Regions from separate parts of the Homo sapiens genome. Here region 1 is linked to region 2. Evidence: fine-mapped expression QTL. Tissue or cell type: whole blood. Region 2 holds a variant in brackets; the other region holds the start of a gene. All regions are shown on one strand. Distances are between the middles of the regions. Region 1 holds the start of CTSC (cathepsin C). Region 2 overlaps CTSC (cathepsin C).

Region 1 (8,959 bases), 24 kb after region 2:
CTCATCTCCTAAATAATTTATTTAACCTATTTCCCAACTGAATTCCACTTCATTCATTCATTTTTTTTGTAATAAATTGACTAGGTGTCTATTGTGTGTCAAAGAAGAAGGGATAGAGACAGAGGAAAAGAAAATGACAAAAAATTATGTACAAGGTTTATGGTACATGGTAACAATTGCCTTGAATATCTCTTCCTTTGCACATGCATTCCACATGCAATTGATTCTTAATCTGAAGTCAAAGAACCTTTGAAGGGCTGTGACAGAGTAACTGTAAGAGGTCTGCAAAGGCCTAGGCTCATCAACGTATACACCAAAGATTATTTTCAGGTTAAATATACCACATATACATTACAATTTTAAAAATTTATATAGATACTATTGTAAGTATGTTTTTTACAAAAAAAATGCGTAGCATCTGGAAATGATACTAAAAATAGTTAACAACTGGTTAAGCATGGGTTTCCACTAATTCAGTGGACTGGTGGCCATCAACAGCTAGCATGGACAAACTGGTTTCCACCAGCTGCATATCACACCAGCAAATCCAGTTGAGGAAAGGCAACCTCTTCCTCTCTATTTCATCTTTTTTTTTTCCATATTAAAGAAAGGTCCTTATTTTAAAAATATTTCTGGGAGTTATTATTCTAAAAAATATTGTAAACTTGCTTGGACCGCCATAACCTTGTGACAAACCACAACTCCCATGAGAAATTATAACAAGTTTAGAACTAGGCCTTTGTTGGTGCTTTGTCTTTTATCATATTTAACAGAGTTATTCCCTACTTTCCCACTTCTTCCCAGATGTTTTAAAGGCTGTAAACCTTTCACCATGAAAAAGTCTGTCTTAATTTATACTCTATGTATAATGAGAAACGCCTAGTTTCAGGCTTATGTATCCAATTTACTTGAACCATTTAATATTTAGCTTACAAGAAAAGTTCCAGCTTGTGAAGAACAAATGAAATGGGCTGCAATTTGTGCTAAACTATTTTAACCCTGAGTATGTTTGCAATTGGAAAAAGTGTGTTATGAGAATGAACAATAGTTCTTTCCTAATGAGAGAAGGAAACAAGCTGGGTTGACTTGGCTACCTTTCACTTTAACCAGCCTAAGGGAGTAACTCCTAGGTTCTCTCTTTCTGTTAGTTTAGAAGAAAAAATTACTCAACATATTTAGTACATTTAAGATAATGAATCATTTAGGCCTATCACTACCTCAGCCAACAGGTAGTGATAGGAAGGACAGCATAGTAACTGCAAGAAAACAAAATGTGTAATCTCTCTATCTTTCCTACAGATTTAGAACAAAGCCAAATGACTATGGCAACATTTAGAAATAAAGTGGTAGTAATAAGGAAAATAAATTAAGAATTTAGTCATACTTACCAAAATGTAAATTTTAAACATAATTTATACATATTCAAATGTAGCACTGGTATTTTGTAAACCTACTAAAATCATAATTTTAAATAAAGTGGCAAAATTATACCAACTACTACTACTCTTGGGAAGAGTGGTGTCAATTCCGGTCATCTTCTTAATCTAAAATTAAAATTCTGAGGGTCTACTAATCAGAAGAGGTTTCAGATATCAAATCATTGAAAATGTAAATCCAACTTCCAACAAAACTAACCTTAAAAAAGGCAAACCACTTGTAGTCATTCAACACAATCTCAAAGCCTTGGTTGTAAATGATGGTGAAATGGCCAGAATTGCCAAGGTCATCATATGCTGTATCCAGCTTCTGAAGGTACACCACTACTTTTTTTTCTTGTGGTCCTAAAGAAAAAAAAAAAAAGCACAATAAAGGAAAATTATTTGGATTTCAATAGGGGAAAGAATCCCCCAATTTCAATTTTAATTGTGCTGCTTTCCTTTCATGCTACCCAGTTTGAGCACAGTCTGCCTAGTGAAGAAACCAGAGGCTCCATCTTGTTGCCTCAAACAGTTCCTGCTCCGAGGCAAGACTGTGAAGTTAGGCTCTAAAAATTTGAGATAATGCAAGCAGAAGCAGTGGCTCACGCCTGTAATCCTAGCACTTTGCGGGGCTGAGGTCAGAACTTCAAGACTAGTTTGGGCAACATAGTGAGACCCTGTCTCTACAAAAATAATTTTTAAAAATTCGCTGGTTATGGTGGTGCATTGCCTGTAGTCCCAGCTATTTGAGCGGCTGAAGCTGAGGTGGAAGGATTGCTTGAGCCCAGGAGTTGGAGGCTGCAGTGAGCTATGATTGCACAACTGCATTCCAACCTGGGCAACACAGTGAGACCTTGTCTCAAAAAAGAGAGATATGCTATGCAGCCCAGCAGGCAGGGAGACCCCCAAAACTACAGTACCTTTCCAGAGCATCCCAACACTGAAGAAATTTTTCCACTGAACAAAAGGAGAAATGGGGAATGTTGAAAATTACAGGCTTCCAGAAACGGAGAAAAGGCAAAATGCTAGTCAAAAGTGGGAAATGCAAGAATAAAAGGTATGACAACAAAAAGATAAATAAACAGACTATCAGATCCTAAGGAAGACAATGTGCTAAGCCCAGGAGAAGACACAAAATGATCTATTCGGAGAAGAAATGGGGTACCTTTCTCCTCAAAGGCTCTACAGTTTAGAACCTCATAATCTGAATCCTTCCAAAGTTTATTCAGCAAACTAGAGGTCTGTATCCTATAAAACCAATTAGTGCTGATAGGAATGATACGTTTAACCTTCATAGATGAGGGCTCAGACCTGTGGGTGCCTTTAATTACTGAATTAAGGCCAAAGGTAATTTTATAGGCAGAGCCTTCCTGAAAATGATTCAGCTGTGTCCATCTGGAGAGTTGTGTATTTTAAAGTTTTTCCATGTTTGAGAGTAATGCTCTGACATGGGAGATTGCATGTGACAGGGCAGTGCAAATCCTGATCTCTTTCTGCCCCAACCTTCAAACTCAAATTTAAAAAAAAAAAAAAAAAAAAGGCCAGGCGTGGTGACTCCCGCCTGTAATCCCAGTACTTTGGGAGGCCGAGGCGGGCGGATCACGAGGTCAGGAGATGGAGACCATCCTGGCTAACACAGTGAAACCCGTCTCTACTAAAAATACAAAATATTAGCCGGGCGTGGTGGCATGTGCCCGTAATCCTAGCTACTCGGGAGACTGAGGCAGGAGAATCGCTTAAACCCGGGAGGCGGAGGTTGCAGTGAGCCGAGATCCCGCCACTGAACTACAGCCTGGGTGACAGAGCAAGACTCCATTCTCAAAAAAAAAAAAAAAAAAGTTACAATGTTCAGGATTATGAAATGCTATACAGTCAGTTAAAAAGGTATTTCTTTAGTAACAAATGACTTAATCTTTGTTCTGTTGACAAGAAAATTATAGCTGATTTTTTACTGACTCTGCAGAAGTCACAGGCTGTAAGAGGGTTTGGGTAGACCACAGTGTGACTCTTCTAACTAGTGATTGTCTTTTTTCCACCCCACCCCCTTCACTAGGTTCTTTGTTCTAGGGGTAACCATGTTATCTGAAGGCATATGGAATATCTCCAGTATGTTCAAACACTAGGTATTTATTGAGAGCCTTCCATGAGCCAAACATTGTGCAGACTCTGGGCATTTCTAATTACTAGGTTCAGAGTTAAGTTTTCTTTGTTATTAATTTTTTAAAAAATTTTTACCTCCTTGCAATGCATGAAACAATGCAGAGTGGTACTAGCCGTTTTCTAGTACTCATCAACACCCGCTCAAACCAAAATCGCTGGGCAGAAAGTCCCTTTCCCACCATCTAACAAAAAGAGAAAACTTCATGCTATATCCTCGAGAGTCTCTGAGCTCATCTATCTTCACTAGTAAAATAGTAATAAAAAATAAAAATAAATTTTAAAAATAACGCTACCAGATCGGACTGGAGAACCAAACGATTGCAGTTCCCAAGTCTCTCTCAAAGCAAACAAAATTAAGCGGGAGGAATAAAAAAGTTCTTGATCAAAGTGTTGAGTCCCCAAGATAACCAAGAAAGTGTGGAGTTAGAAGTTCTCAGCAGATGAACTTTAACTTCGCGAGCCTGGCGGGGAAGAAGGTCCCCAAGGGTCCCCGAATCCAGTCAAGATGCTCTGGCCACCCACAAGCGTCTGCCTGGGGGGAAGCGGTAGTTGGCGTGGCGCTGCGTTAGGGGCTCAAGGGCAGAAAGGACGACCCGGAGGACTGCCGAGCCGGCGGCTTACCCATAACCGAGCAGTTGACATCGCGCTGGGAACCGCTGGAGCCCACCTGGAAGACCCAGGTGCCCAGCAGGTCAAGATAGGTGCAGTTGGCAGGTGTGTCGCAGCGCACGGCGCCGTCGCCGGAGAGAAGCAGCAGGAGGGCGGCGAGCAGCAAGGAGGGCCCAGCACCCATGCTGCAGGGAGCTGAGAAAAGAGGTGAAGAATTACCAGGAAGCCGAGCGCTGCGGGCTAGCGGTGAGTCCACCACGAGGCGCGCGCCTTGAAATAGCTACGCCGGCCCGGAAACCCGTGGGCGGGGTCACTGAGCAGCAGGGGATTGGGGGTTGGGCGCCAGGCGCGTGCGCGTCTCTGAAACGGGGACTTGGGAGCGCGCGCTGCCCCTCACTTGGCTGCAACTGGACCCAGAACTAGGGAAGAGGCCAGGGACAGATTTTTTTTTTTTATTTTTATTTTTTTTGCCGAGGGACGTTTCAAAATTTTGCACGGCCAGGGTGACAAAAAGAGGATTTAAGAGCCACAAGCGGTCCGCACATGACCCAGACTTCGTTCCTGTGCGGTAACGTAGGGAGAGAAGGAAAGGGTGTGGGGGGAATAAGGGAGTGGGTCAGGTGAAAGAGCGCGACAGAGGGAGAGATCTAGCAAGTGGAGTTCTGTTTTACTTGCTATTCTTCCCCTTTAGTCTTTTTTCTCAGGTCCACTTGCCTCATAACCAACTTCTTGTTTTTTCCTCTGAAAAACTTCGCTAGCTAACATCAACTATTCCAGCTGTTTGAGAACTTATCTTCCTTCCGTTTTCCAACTCTTCCTACTTTTTTATGTGCTTGATTTTGTTTTGTTTCCTGGTAAATGCTGTTTGCCTGTTTGCATTCAGCAGAATTCAGTTTTTGTGCAAACCTGCAGTTTTGATGTATTAGCGTTGTGGGGGTTTTCCCTCTGGCACGCACACACATGGCGCTCTCAGAGATGATATTGCTCAACCCCTTTTATGTTACAGAGGAAAAGCAAGAGGCCCAGAGAGAGGAAGCGGCTTGCCCAGGGTGAGAAGGGTGAGGAAGGAAGCTAGCCAATGGGAGAAGGCTGGTCTTATGAACCGTTCTAGTGTGTCAGTCTGATCGCCAAAAATTATTAGGTGGCACTATTTCCAGGTGCCTCCTTGCTCAGTTTAAGTATCACCCTTTTCCGTAAGAGCCTCCCGTTCTTTCCTGGCTTTTGTTGGTAATTGGGGCTCCTTTCTCCCACTGAGCCTACTAGGTGTCAGGCCCTGTGGACACAGTGATGAACAAGACAGACCTGATGTGTCCCCGTTTTCTTTGGGATATGAATTTTTGCCCCCTTTGCACTGGTCACAAATCAATATTCATATGTCCATTTTTTTTCCACCAGATTATAAACATTCAAAGAGAGCAGGTCCAAATTATTCACTTATATCTCCCTAGATTCTGGTTTATTCAGAAAGTGTCCTTGAGTGTTAAAATAAGTGTACTTAATATTCTTATCTTGGTTGCCAAGCTTGAAAGCCAGTTTCAATGAGGCAAAAGGAGTTGTCCTTGAAAGTTCAGAGGTGAAAATACTCTTCAATGGGGGCACAAATTTCCAAAGCCTGGGGCGGGGTTGGTGGCGGGGGGTTGGGGAACACCTTGCTTTTAGGTTTTATATACCTTCTTAGAATTGAAAGCTGACATTGTATAATTAAGCTAACACACTATTTATTTAAAGATACCCTGACAGATTAAGCTTCCCTTCCTGAATCTCTAGGAAGGTGTGTTACTGATTGTTAAAACATTAAATTTGTATTAGGTCATCAATATTGAAGAGCCAGTTTAGGTGGAAATTTCTTTGATGAATGTAATCAAAGCAACACACTTAATTGTAAAGAAAGTTTAAAACAGTCTTTATTCAATGATTGAATAATAGAAAAAGATCTTGTGGACCTCTTAGTCTAATGGATTCATTTTAAAATTGGGAAATGGAGATTCAGAGAGTTAAATCACTTGCTGAATGTCATATTGCCACTTAGTAAGATTTAAGAATGAACCTCAGGCACATTGATTTTCAGTTTAGTTTATTTCTACTAATCTAATAATTCCCATACTGTTCTCTCTCAAAAATAACTACTAACTCTCCATTCCACGCACACACAAAAAATTGATTCTCAAACTGATCAGACCCCAAATCCTTTACTTTCTGAAATGAAATTAATATATAAACTGCTTACACACTTAATAAAAAGAAATGTAATGCCAAATGTAATATAAAGAAGAAATCAGATATTTTAAATATATTTCTAGTATAATAAGTTATATCCCATCATGTAAAATGTTCAAGTATGACTGTGTTGGAAAACATAATGAGGCACTCAGATACTTGCTCTTCACACTTCTGTAACCACCCAATGGATTCACCTGGCCTGCTGCCTAGACAGAGCCAATTTATCAAGACAGGGGAATTGCAATGGAGGAAGAGTAATTCATACAGAGCCGGCTGTGGGGGAGACGGGAGTTTTATTATCACTCAAATCAGTCTCCCCGAGCATTCAGGGATCAGAGTTTTCAAAGATAATTTGGTGGGTAGGGGCTTGGGAAGTGGGGAGTGCTGATTGGTTAGGTTGGAGATGGAATCATAGGGGGTCTAAGTGAGTTTTTCTTGCTATCTTCTGTTCCTGGGTGGGATGGCAGATATGGTTGAGCCAGATTGCTGGTCTCAGTGGTGTCAGCTGATCTATGGAGTGCAGGGTCTGTAAAATATCTCAAGCACTGATCTTAGATTTTACAATAGAGATGTTATCCCCAGAAGCAACTTGGAGGGTGGGAGGGTGCAGACTCTTGGAGCCAGAGGCCACATGACCCCTAAACTGTAATTTCTAATCTTGTAGCTAATTTGTTAGTCCTGCGAAGGCAGACTGGTCCCCAGGCAAGAAGGGAGTCTTTTTGGGAAAGGGCTATTATCAATTTTGTTTCAGAGTCAAACCATGAACTGAATTACTTCCCAAAGTTTGTTCCACCTATGCCCAGGAATGAAAAAGGACAGCTTAAAGATTAGAAGCAAGATGGAGTCGATTAGGTCTGATTTCTTTCACAGTTGTAATTTTTGCAAAGGTGGTTTCACTTCTATGTAAAATTGTAGAATCGTGGTAAATGTGATAGGAACTTTTTTCTGAGAGCACAAATGATTTCTGATGAGTTATAACTCAAATACCTTATCAATTAATCACTCAAACACCATACCAAAGTTGTTGATGTTGGACAATTCTTGGTCAAATTCCCAGGAGAACAAAGTAGAATTTTCTGTTGAAGGTTTATCAAGAGGTTGCATTCCCAAAAATTCAGTATATGTTAAAATTATATAAAACAAAAGTGAGCTTATGTGCAAAACATGGTCTGTCAGTAGGCTCCCATCATTAAAAGCAGGTTTACAGAGAGGCAGCATTACTTGGCAGTGGTTCTCAAAGTGTAGCCTAGGACCAGGGACATCAGCATCTGTCTTAGTCTGTTTTCTGTTGCTAGAACTGTACCTGAGACTCGGTAATTTAAAACAAAGAAAATTATTTTTTATAGTTCTAGAGACAGGTAAGTCCAAGGTCAAGAGGCCCCATCGAAGGGGGCCCTTCTTGCTGGTTGAGACTCTTTGCAGAATCCCAAGGTAGTACAGGGTATCACGTGGCAAAGGGGGTCATGAGAGATGGCCAAACTAGTGCTTATTACAGACCCACCCTCATGATAACTAATCCTTGATAATTCCATAATCCATTAATCTATTAACCCATGATAGATTCATCCATTCATGAGGGCACTGCCAATCACTTCTCAAAGGTCCCACCTCTCGACACATGACTTTTGGGGGACAACCTATGTTCAAACCACAGCATTCTGTCCCTGACCCCCAGAATTCATGGCCTTCTCACAATTCAAAATACAGTCATTCCATCCTAGTAGTCCCAAAAGACTGAATTTGTTCCAGCACCAACTCAAAAGTCTAAAGTGTCATCTGGGAGTTTGTGAAATCAAAACAAGTTATCTACTTCCTAGATACAATGGTGGGACAGGTATAAGGTATACACTCCCTTTCCAAAAGAGACAAACAGGCCAGAAGAAAGAAGTAACAGGCCCAAGCAAGTCAAAAACTCAGCAGAGAAGACTTAAATTTTAAGGCTGGAGAATAATCTTTCTTGATTCCATGTACAGCATCTTGTGCACATTGGGGGATGGGGTATTTCAGGAGGCCTCAAGGCACCCTGGTGCCCTCAGCTTTCCCAGGCAGGTATTGCATGCTGCTGGTGGCTCTACTGTTCTGGGGTCCTGGTGGCAGTCTGGCTCTTACAGCTGCATTAGGCATTGCCCTTAGGGGGGCTCTATGCAACAACCCCAGTTCCACTGTTCCACTTCGTATTGCCCTAGTGGAAGCTCTCTGCAGTAGCTCTACCCTCAGACAGTCCAACACATTCTTCAAAATCTAGGTGGAGGCTGCCAGGCCTCCACAGCTCTTGCATTCTATGCACCTGCAGAATTAGTACCACATGGATACTGCCATGGTTTACCACTTGTACATCCTAGAGCTGCAGGTTAATCTGCACCTGTGGCTGCTTGAACCACAGCTGGGGGCGCTGAGGAGCAGTGTGCTGGAACGCAGGGAGTAGAGACCCAAAGCAGCCCTGGGCAGCAGTCCATCCCCGGAATTATTCTGCCCTCTTAGAGCTCAGGGCCTATGAGGAAGGGGCAGCCTCAAAGATCCCAGAAATGCCTCTGGGGTTTTTAATTTCATTG
Region 2 (8,959 bases):
AGATATAGTCTTTACTGATGTAAATAGAGTAATTAAAACAGGCATTCACACTCTGTGCCTAAGTGGAAAGTGGTACAATCTTTCAGGAAGGTAATTGGCAATATGTATCAATAGCCTAGAACAGCCTGGCATGTCTTCTCTAAAAATAAAAGTTCAAGTTAACTAAGATGCATGTATAAGGATTTTCCATGAAGTACTTTTAAACTACTAATAGATTGTAAATAACCGAAATAAATATTCTAAGATAAGGGACTGATTAATGATGTTTCATTTTCTATATATTCATTTAAAATGTCTAGAAAGTTATTTAATGATATGGAAGAGTGCTCACAACTATATTATATTAAATATGAGAAGATATCAAAGTTTATACATAATCATAATCAATTTATCAACTTTTGCACAGTAATATATGTATATTATATGTATATTAACGTATATGTATAATACATACATATATATGTATGCGCGCACACACACACACACACACACACACACACACACACTATAAATGCATTTTTAAAATGCCAAACATGGTTACCTCTGAATGGTGGCATGAGATGCCAAGCTTTCCCCTACTCCCTACAGTTTCTACAGTGTACCTTTATAACCTTTTTAATAAGAAAAAAGAGAAAAGCAAAACCTGTATGCAACATATATACAAAATGCAAGCATTATAACCATATGATACTAAAAGAAATTATACTTTATGGACATTCGGTTTATACTTGTTACTCAGAATTTAGTTCTTGAACCAATATCAGTAGCAACACCCAGAAGTTTATTAGAAATGCATACTGTAAGTACTCAGCCCAGATCACCTGAATCAGAATCTCCTTTTTTTTTTTTTTTTTAAACAAGATCCCCAAGTGATTCACAATAACATTAAAATCTGAGCCACATTGGTTTACCTTGTGCCAAATGCTTGGATATATATGTAAATAGATTCAACACACAAAGAGCATATTTACAAAGTAGAAAAATTCAGGAAGCTGATTATTCACTTAATTAAAACATTTATCATACCTGTGTGCTAGATGCTAGGAATTATAGAACTCACCATATTATTACTATTAAAAAAGAGTCTGTGGTTTCAGAGTGACTCACTATCTAAGACTTCCATAAACATTCAACTATGCAAAACAAGATATAATTAACCTGAGGAACATTTTAGGCATACTGCAAACTTTTCTTTCCCTTATAAATCATGTGTGTAGAGAGAGAATTTTGATATGGTCTAAAAACCTAAGAGCACTGAAAATAATCAGAAAAACGTGCAACCAGGTTGATAATGTTTTAATGTTTTTGTCGAAGTTCTTTCCCACTTGTTGCAAAGTGTGAAAAACCCAGAGACGTACCCTTATCAAGCAGATTATAAAACTGTATCATATGTATGACTACACTAACACAATAACAAAAACAAGTTATAGTTGTTTCATTGTTTCTTTAGGCAAAAGAATATATTTTAAATTGTAAATAAAATACTTTTGAGATATTTTCCCACAACGCCAGTCAATATTTCATTGACTGTAGATATTTGAGGAGCAGTAGCCTGCTGTTTCGCTTGCTTTATCATAACATCTAGCAAAACCTCGTGTGTTGACATGTGCATTAAAATAATGACAAGATAGCATCCTACGTCTTAAATACTATTATTTTTGGTGTTTAAGATCCAACGAGATTAAAAATAATGTATCTTACTATGGGATAACAGATCATTAAGAGCTGAAAGAGACCTCAAAGGCAATTCAGTCCCACATGCTCACTTCACAGGTGAGGCAATGTAGGTTCTGAGCACTCCGGTTGGGAGCTTCTTCACTAAATGAGAGAATGTTTGAAATATCAAATAGAGTACAATAGTACATAGCATATCCTAAATGATAGGGTACAAAGTAAACAAGTTAAAAGTAAATGTGTAGCTCTAGGATCAAGCCAAACAAAGCTATTTAAAACCTAAACTTAAAATGAAGGGGATGAATTAGTCTAGATCTTGCCCAGCACCTTTGCAGACAATTCATCCTCCTTTAAATCATCTCTCTTACCTCTGTGCTGCAGTCATTCATTACTAATGTTGCCTGGCTTGGGATGATTTGTACATGTACATTTTTAGTGGCTTTTACAACTACATAAAACAGAAAAAGTAACAACATTTCATCTCTTCCTTCCAAAACTAATAAAGTCTAATTTGAAATCTCCTGTTTGTGTGGTTTAGTCAGTTATAGATTTAATTTAACAGTAAACATTAACTGCAGTTTATAGTCTGAATTGTGTCCCCCTCAAAATTCATACGTTGAAATTCTAACCCCCTGTATCACAGCCATATGACTGTATTTGGAGACAGAGCTTTAAAGAGGTCATTAAGGTAAAATTAGGTCATATGGGTGGGCCCCAATCCAATATGACTGATGCCCTTATAAGAAGAGGACATTAGGACAATCAGAAAAGACTGTTTAGGAGCCCAGTAAGCAAGCAGACATCTGCAAGCCAAGGAGTGTGGCCTTGGAAGAAACCAAACCTGACAACACCTCAATCTTGGACTTCTAGCCTCCAAAACTGTGAAAAAACAACCTTCCTTAAGCCACCCAGTCTGTGGTACTTTGTTATGGCAGCCCTCGCAAACCAACAGGCTGCATAAATACTAAGAACTTTGATTTCAGTTATTTATGGTCTTGTTTAAAAGTTGCCCAATTAGTATCACCTATACTTGTTGCAGCATAAACATACGTATCTACTTGTATCATGCAACATGTTATTACATGGCAATAAGCAAAATGGCTTTTCTTTATTAGTAATTTGCAATTCTGTGGTCCATTACATGATTTCATTTAAAGTAATCATTGGTCCATTACTTTTGGAACACTTTGAAAAAATACTCTCAATAATGTTGGTCAATTTATTTTTCCAGTAAGGTTTTACATAGCATGCCTAATATTTCTAAGCCAAAGATATTTTGTATAATCAAACTAAAATTCCAAAAATGTACACACATATTCATATATACTATAAAACAAAACTAAACGTATGTCTCATTTGTAGCAACTCACTTTTCCTGAGAATTCTTAAGGTGTGCTATGTTGACATACACATTCTCAGAGGCAGTTCCCACCTTCTTTCCGGTGAAACAAGCCCAGTTCCGGCCCAACACATCATGCACCCACCCAGTCATTGTCTCGTTGCAGTAAGTGGTCACCTTGCTGCCCTCTTCTTTATACTGCAAACAAATAAGAGAAAAGAAAACCAAGTAAAATCTGTCTTCAAATTTCAGGTCCATTTCCATGGCTCTCATTCACAGTAAATGTGCCCCTTTCAAAACAAAAACTTCACCCTGAGAGGTTACACTGTAAGAATTATTCTAGAAAAAGAAGACATACAAACTTTTCTGTGGTTAGCACTGTTGGCCACCAAACAAAATGTATATAACAAAACACTTCCAGGAATGAAGGCCAAGGGAAAACAAAACAAAACAAAACAAAAAAGAAAGAAAACAGACCATCTGGCATATTCAAGGCATTTTTCAAAAGTGACTTCACAGTCCTTACAAGAAGACTATGAGGATGCAGATGATAATAACCACATTTTACCAAGGACAAAAGGAGCTCAGCTCAGAGATAAGGAGCTCCTACCAAGGCAACAGGCGAAGTGGCAGAAACAGAATTCTCCTCAGTCTATCACACTACAATTTTCCACTGAGACAAGGGCCACACTAGGAAACTACAAGAACAAATGATGAACTTTTTTTTTCCAGGGATGGAGTCTTGCTGTGT[T/C]GCCCAGGCTGGAGTGCAGTGGTGTGATCTTGGCTCACTGCAACTTGCACCTCCCAGGTTCAAGCGATTCTCTTGCCTCAACCTCCCGAGTAGCTGGGATTAAAGGTGCTTACCACCACGCCTGGCTAATTTTTGTATTGTTTAGTAGAGACGGGGTTTTGCCATGTTGGCCAGGCTGGTCTTGAACTCCAGACAAGTGATCCACCCACCTCGGCCTCCCAAAGTGATGGGATTACAGGTGTGAGCCACAGTGAAACAGAATCCTTTTTTTCTGTCAATCTCTCAATTTATTAGCATATTCTGATCATGAGGGGGCTAAAGTAACCTGAGTATTAAATATATTCTTTACACTTTATTTCAGTAATATGGCCTTTTGTCTTATTTCAGTGTTAGAACTGAAAAATAACTATTATTTTTAACAGATCCAGGATTTGAACTAAGATGCTCTGGCTCCAGAGCCTAGTCACCCTCATGTTAGAACATCTCCTCATGGAGGCGGGGCACATGATCCAGGATGACTGTGTAGCATGTGGGAGACAGAAAGGGAAAATGCTGTGCTAAATTTCTGAGGAGAGACTTGGGCACAGACAATTTCAGGCTCTGACTTAATTTAATAGAAAAGACTATTTGTAGAACCTTGGGCAAGATTTTACGAGGCTTTAGTTCTGTTGCCTGTAAAATATGGAAAGTAGAAAAAAAAATCCTCAAAGGTATAAACATTCTGGGATTCCATGATCAAATGCAGGGTTTGGTAAACACTTCCTATAATGGCCAGACAGCAAAGACCACTAGGCTTTGCAGGCCACTTAGTTCTCTTGCAACTGTTCAACTCTGCCCTTGTAGCACAAAAGCCATCAAAAGCAAGACTCAAACAAATTGGCACAGGGGTCAACTATGTTTCTATAAAATTTCTGTTTACAAAAACAGACAGTAGGGTGGTTTTGGCTCCAGAGGTTGTAGTTTGTGGACTCCTGCTCTACTCTAATACACATTATTTCACTTGTTTGCAGAGGTTGGCAAACTTCTTTTTGAAGGACTAGATAGTAAATATTTTAGGCTTGAAGGCTGGAAGACCTCAGTCACAACTACTCAACCTAAAAGGTGCAAAGGGAATACATAAATGAATGAGCTAGGCTGTGTTCCAATAAAACTTTACTTACAAAAAGAGGTTTGTAGTTTGCCAACCCCCAGTTTAGAGAAATGTGTGGGCTAAACTACACTTAAAGTTAAAATTACCTTATTGCATCTGACTCTCTGAATTCAAATCATATTTAGGGGGAGAGTTAAAAATGTATGGCTTTAGAATCCAGAAAAACTGGACTTGAATTGTGGGAATCACCACTCACTGTGTTATATAGCACAGGAAAAGTTACTCTGGGCTACTCATATCCGCATCTTGCTTTTATCTTTGGTGATATTCATGATATTCTCTTTTTTTCAGACAGAGTCTCACTCTGTTGCCCAGGCTGGAGTACACTGGCGAGATGTCGGCTCACTGCAACCTCCGCCTCCCAGGTTCAAGCGATTCTCCTGCCTCAGCCTCCCAAGTAGCTGCGACTACAGGCATGTGCTACCAGGCCTGGCTAATTTTTGTATTTTTAGTAGAGATAGGGTTTCACCATGTTGGCCAGGCTGGTCTCAAACTCCTGACCTGAGGTGATCTGCTTCCTTCAGCCTCCCAAAGTGCTGGGATTACAGGTGTGAGCCACTGTACCCAGCTGGTTGTTCATGATATTCTGGATCCCATATGTCTGCTTCTAGTGAAGAATGGCTTCACTAGCATGAGTTCAGTTCCCAACTACTCAAGTCCCTGCTAAAACCCTACTCAATATGATGACCATGGAAACAAAGACCCAGGACATTGTTGGGCAGCAATATGAGAGGGTGTGTTGTGTGAAAAGGTTAATAAAATTAACTTCATACTAAACTATGTAAAACTTCTACTTTGGTAGATCGAAACAGTGTAACATGGTAACTTTATAGGATGCAACCTAAACTCCATAAAGTTGTATTATGTACTTCTCTCTGGCACTGGCTCTTGATCCTATTCTCTTCTCCTTGGTTGCATGCTGGTAAGGCAGGCCAGGTAGGGTTAGGCCGATGCTCCCTCCCACCTCTGCTGTTTGAGGAAGCAGTCTGACAATGTTTCCAGAGTTCTTAAGAGCTACTTTATAGATATTGACACACATACACAAACAAAATGCTACACACAGGAAGACATTCACTGCAGTATAACACAAGTTAAAAATAAAAACAATAGAATGTCCTAGAAAATGCCCAAATTTAAAAAGTATTAGGTAAACAATTTATTCAAAGGAATAATGTGTAACATTGTATATGATAAACCTGAGTTCTATAGGAAAGGGGTGAGCAAACTAAAATTGGAGAAGACTGCCTATTTCTATAAATATAGTTTTACTGGAGAACAGCATGCCCATTCATTTATACATTGTCTATGGCTACTTTTGTGCCACAATGGCAGAGATTTCATACTTTATAAATATTGTACAGATTACTCATAAATCTTACAGGTTCAAGAGAACACAGAAATGATATAGTCTTGGGGGACAAAAAAAAGACCTAAGGAAGTGGTGGAACTAGAACTAAGCATCCTACCCAATGCCATCCTCCACTTCTTCCTACAATTTGTCTTCTCACGAAGAGCCAGAGAGGTAAACAATTACTAAAATCACTGACGGGAGATACCCAGAAATGACAGAAAAGGCTTTTTTTTAAACCCAAAGGGCTTCCACCTATATTATTTGAGCCTCACGATAATCTCTTTGGGATAAAATTTCTTTCTAATGAAGAAAAGGTGACTCTGCAAAATTAAATGGAGAGGAAAGGATTCAAATACAGGTTTACATGTTACAAAGGTCATTGCTTTATCCATTGTATTCTCTAAAAAAAAAAAGGTGCAGAGAATTAACTGACTCATGAGTCACGTTCAAATTGTTGCCCAAGGCCTTTAAAGGGCTGCCTAAAATTTCTAGCAGTCCTCATAGGTGTTCTCCCATTCTTCAGGTACCTATGTTGCCTTGGCTCTTTCAGTCTTTTTACCATGCCTGCCTAGGGTTTTTGACGCAGAACAGAAAGAAAGAATAATGCCTTCAGGCCTAGACTGCCTAGACTGCTCTGCCACTGATTGGCTGTGTGATCCTGAGCAAGTCACGTTCCTCTCTGTACTTTCAGTTTCCTCATCTTTAAAACAGGAGCAATGGCCAGGTACAGTGGCTCATGCCTTTAATCCCAGCACTTTGGAACGCCGAGGTTGGGGGAATCACTTGAGGCCAGGTGTTTTGAGGTTACAGTGAGCAATGATCCAGCCACTGAACTCCGGCCTGGATGACAGAATCAGATCCATTCTCTAAATAAATAAATAAATAAATAAATAAATGAAGCAGGGATGATAATTACAGACTATATCTCATGGGCTGTGTTTTATGTATACTAACTCATTTATTTTTCACGATAGTCTATCAGGTTGTTCTTTCCACAAAAACATAACTATGACAATAGGATTTTTGTTTATTCAGTACCTAGAAAACTATCTGGCACTAGGAAGTAATTAACTACTAAATGAGTGAATAAATGAATAACAGAAGAGGAAGAACAACAAATGTCAAGTCCTATTTCAACAGTTAACAAGGCACTGAGAATAGGTAAGTTTATAATTAACAGAGGTGTGGTGATGCCAATATATCACAATGTCTGACAGTCCAAATCACAGTATTACTTCAGAAGTGCAAATGTTCCTCTCCAAAGCTGCTTCCCTATTTGTAATTTTAGGTTGACCTAGAAGTTCCAAAAATTTCCCTTCAAGCTTTCTAATTGCAAATCCTTATATCTGTGGTTGTCTTAATTTTTTTTTTTTTTCAAGATGGAGTCTTGTTCTGTCACCCAGGCTGGAGTGCAGTGGCGCGATCTCAGCTCACTGCAACCTCCGTCTTCCGGGTTCAAGCAATTCTCCTGCCTCAGCCGCCTGAGTAGCTGGGATTACAGGCATGCGTCACCACGCCCGGCTAATTTTTGTATTTTTAGTAGAGACAGGGTTTCGCCATGTTGGCCAGGCTGGTCTTGAACTCCTGACCTCAGGTGATCCGTCTGCCTCGGCCTCCCAAAGTGCTGGGATTACAGGCATGATCCACCACGGCCAGCCTTCTTATTTAATATTCATAAAGCCAGTAATTCTTAATAGACACACTATTTATATGAGTAATCCTAAAAAACTACAACTTTGTTTTTGTTGTTATAACTTAAACCCTACACATTCCATTAAATTGATGGAATTATTTTCCCTTTTAAAATTTTATTTTATACTATTCTTACAATCTGAAATAATGTATCAATTTTAGAACCTGAAATTATTCTGTAAAAGTACAGAGCTGCAATGCCACTCTGCACGACAACAACTTAGTAAAAGAGAGGCATTTACCAGCGGGGAAGCCAAGTACGCAGTACCTTAAGGGGGACCATCCACTGTACCCCTGTGATTTTCTTGATTTGAATGTTTTCGGGGTATGTCATTTTTTCCTGTGAAATACTTCTTTTGTGATTTCTGACGTTGTATCACCAATTAAGAAGTTGAAGTTTTGACCCCGCTATCCAGCTTGAAATGCAGCCAAAAAATTTTTCTGAGTTTTCACTTATATAAACATCAGTCTCTGAAGACTGCCTTGCACAGATGAGATAATTTAAGTTTCCATTCATTTATGCTAATTTCTACTGCAACAAATAGATAATTTCCTAAAATATGAAGATCAAGCCCTAGTATTTAAGTTTAAAAAACTATTATGATTCAATAACTATCCATTTGCTTCTTCAATATTACCATTAAGTTGCCACACATTCTCAAAATATCCCTTCTTCAATTTCCCACTCATTTTATCAGCTATCCAATTAGATATACCTAGTCATAGGGAAATTTTGGAATTGAAGTTATTTTTGGGAACTGAAGTTATTTATCTTGGATCTTTTACTTGACTGCTTTTTGACACTGAGGAGAGGGAAAAAAAAATTCCTTAAACCTGTTCTACTGTTTTCTTGATTAATAATATACTTAGCCAATGTCTGAATACTTACTTTACATAACAAACTTGGCTAGAAGACAGAGGCAGTTTAGTAAAGTGGACTCCGCCCTTTAAATCCAGTCTGTCACTTATCATTTACGTAACCTTGAGCAAGTCAAAACTAGT

Evidence for each region.
Region 1: it holds the start of CTSC, and the variant in region 2 is fine-mapped to the expression of CTSC in whole blood (TOPMed, PIP 0.97).

Annotation. Positions count from the first base shown.
Region 1 is chr11:88,333,302-88,342,260 of GRCh38, forward strand. It overlaps CTSC (cathepsin C), which reads right to left and starts at 4,435. Exons shown (of 7, transcript NM_001814.6): 1 at 4,200-4,435; 2 at 1,636-1,781. The coding sequence starts at 4,371. It overlaps LOC101929174 (a long non-coding RNA gene), which reads left to right and starts at 4,583. Exons shown (of 5, transcript NR_188511.1): 1 at 4,583-4,755. RefSeq lists an enhancer at 4,151-4,430.
Region 2 is chr11:88,309,344-88,318,302 of GRCh38, forward strand. CTSC (cathepsin C) reads right to left here. Exons shown (of 7, transcript NM_001814.6): 3 at 3,045-3,211. Among named protein-coding and RNA genes, the nearest start is that of CTSC, 24 kb to the right of the region's middle. RefSeq lists a silencer at 3,545-3,745. The variant T/C (reference allele first, on the strand shown) is at 3,765.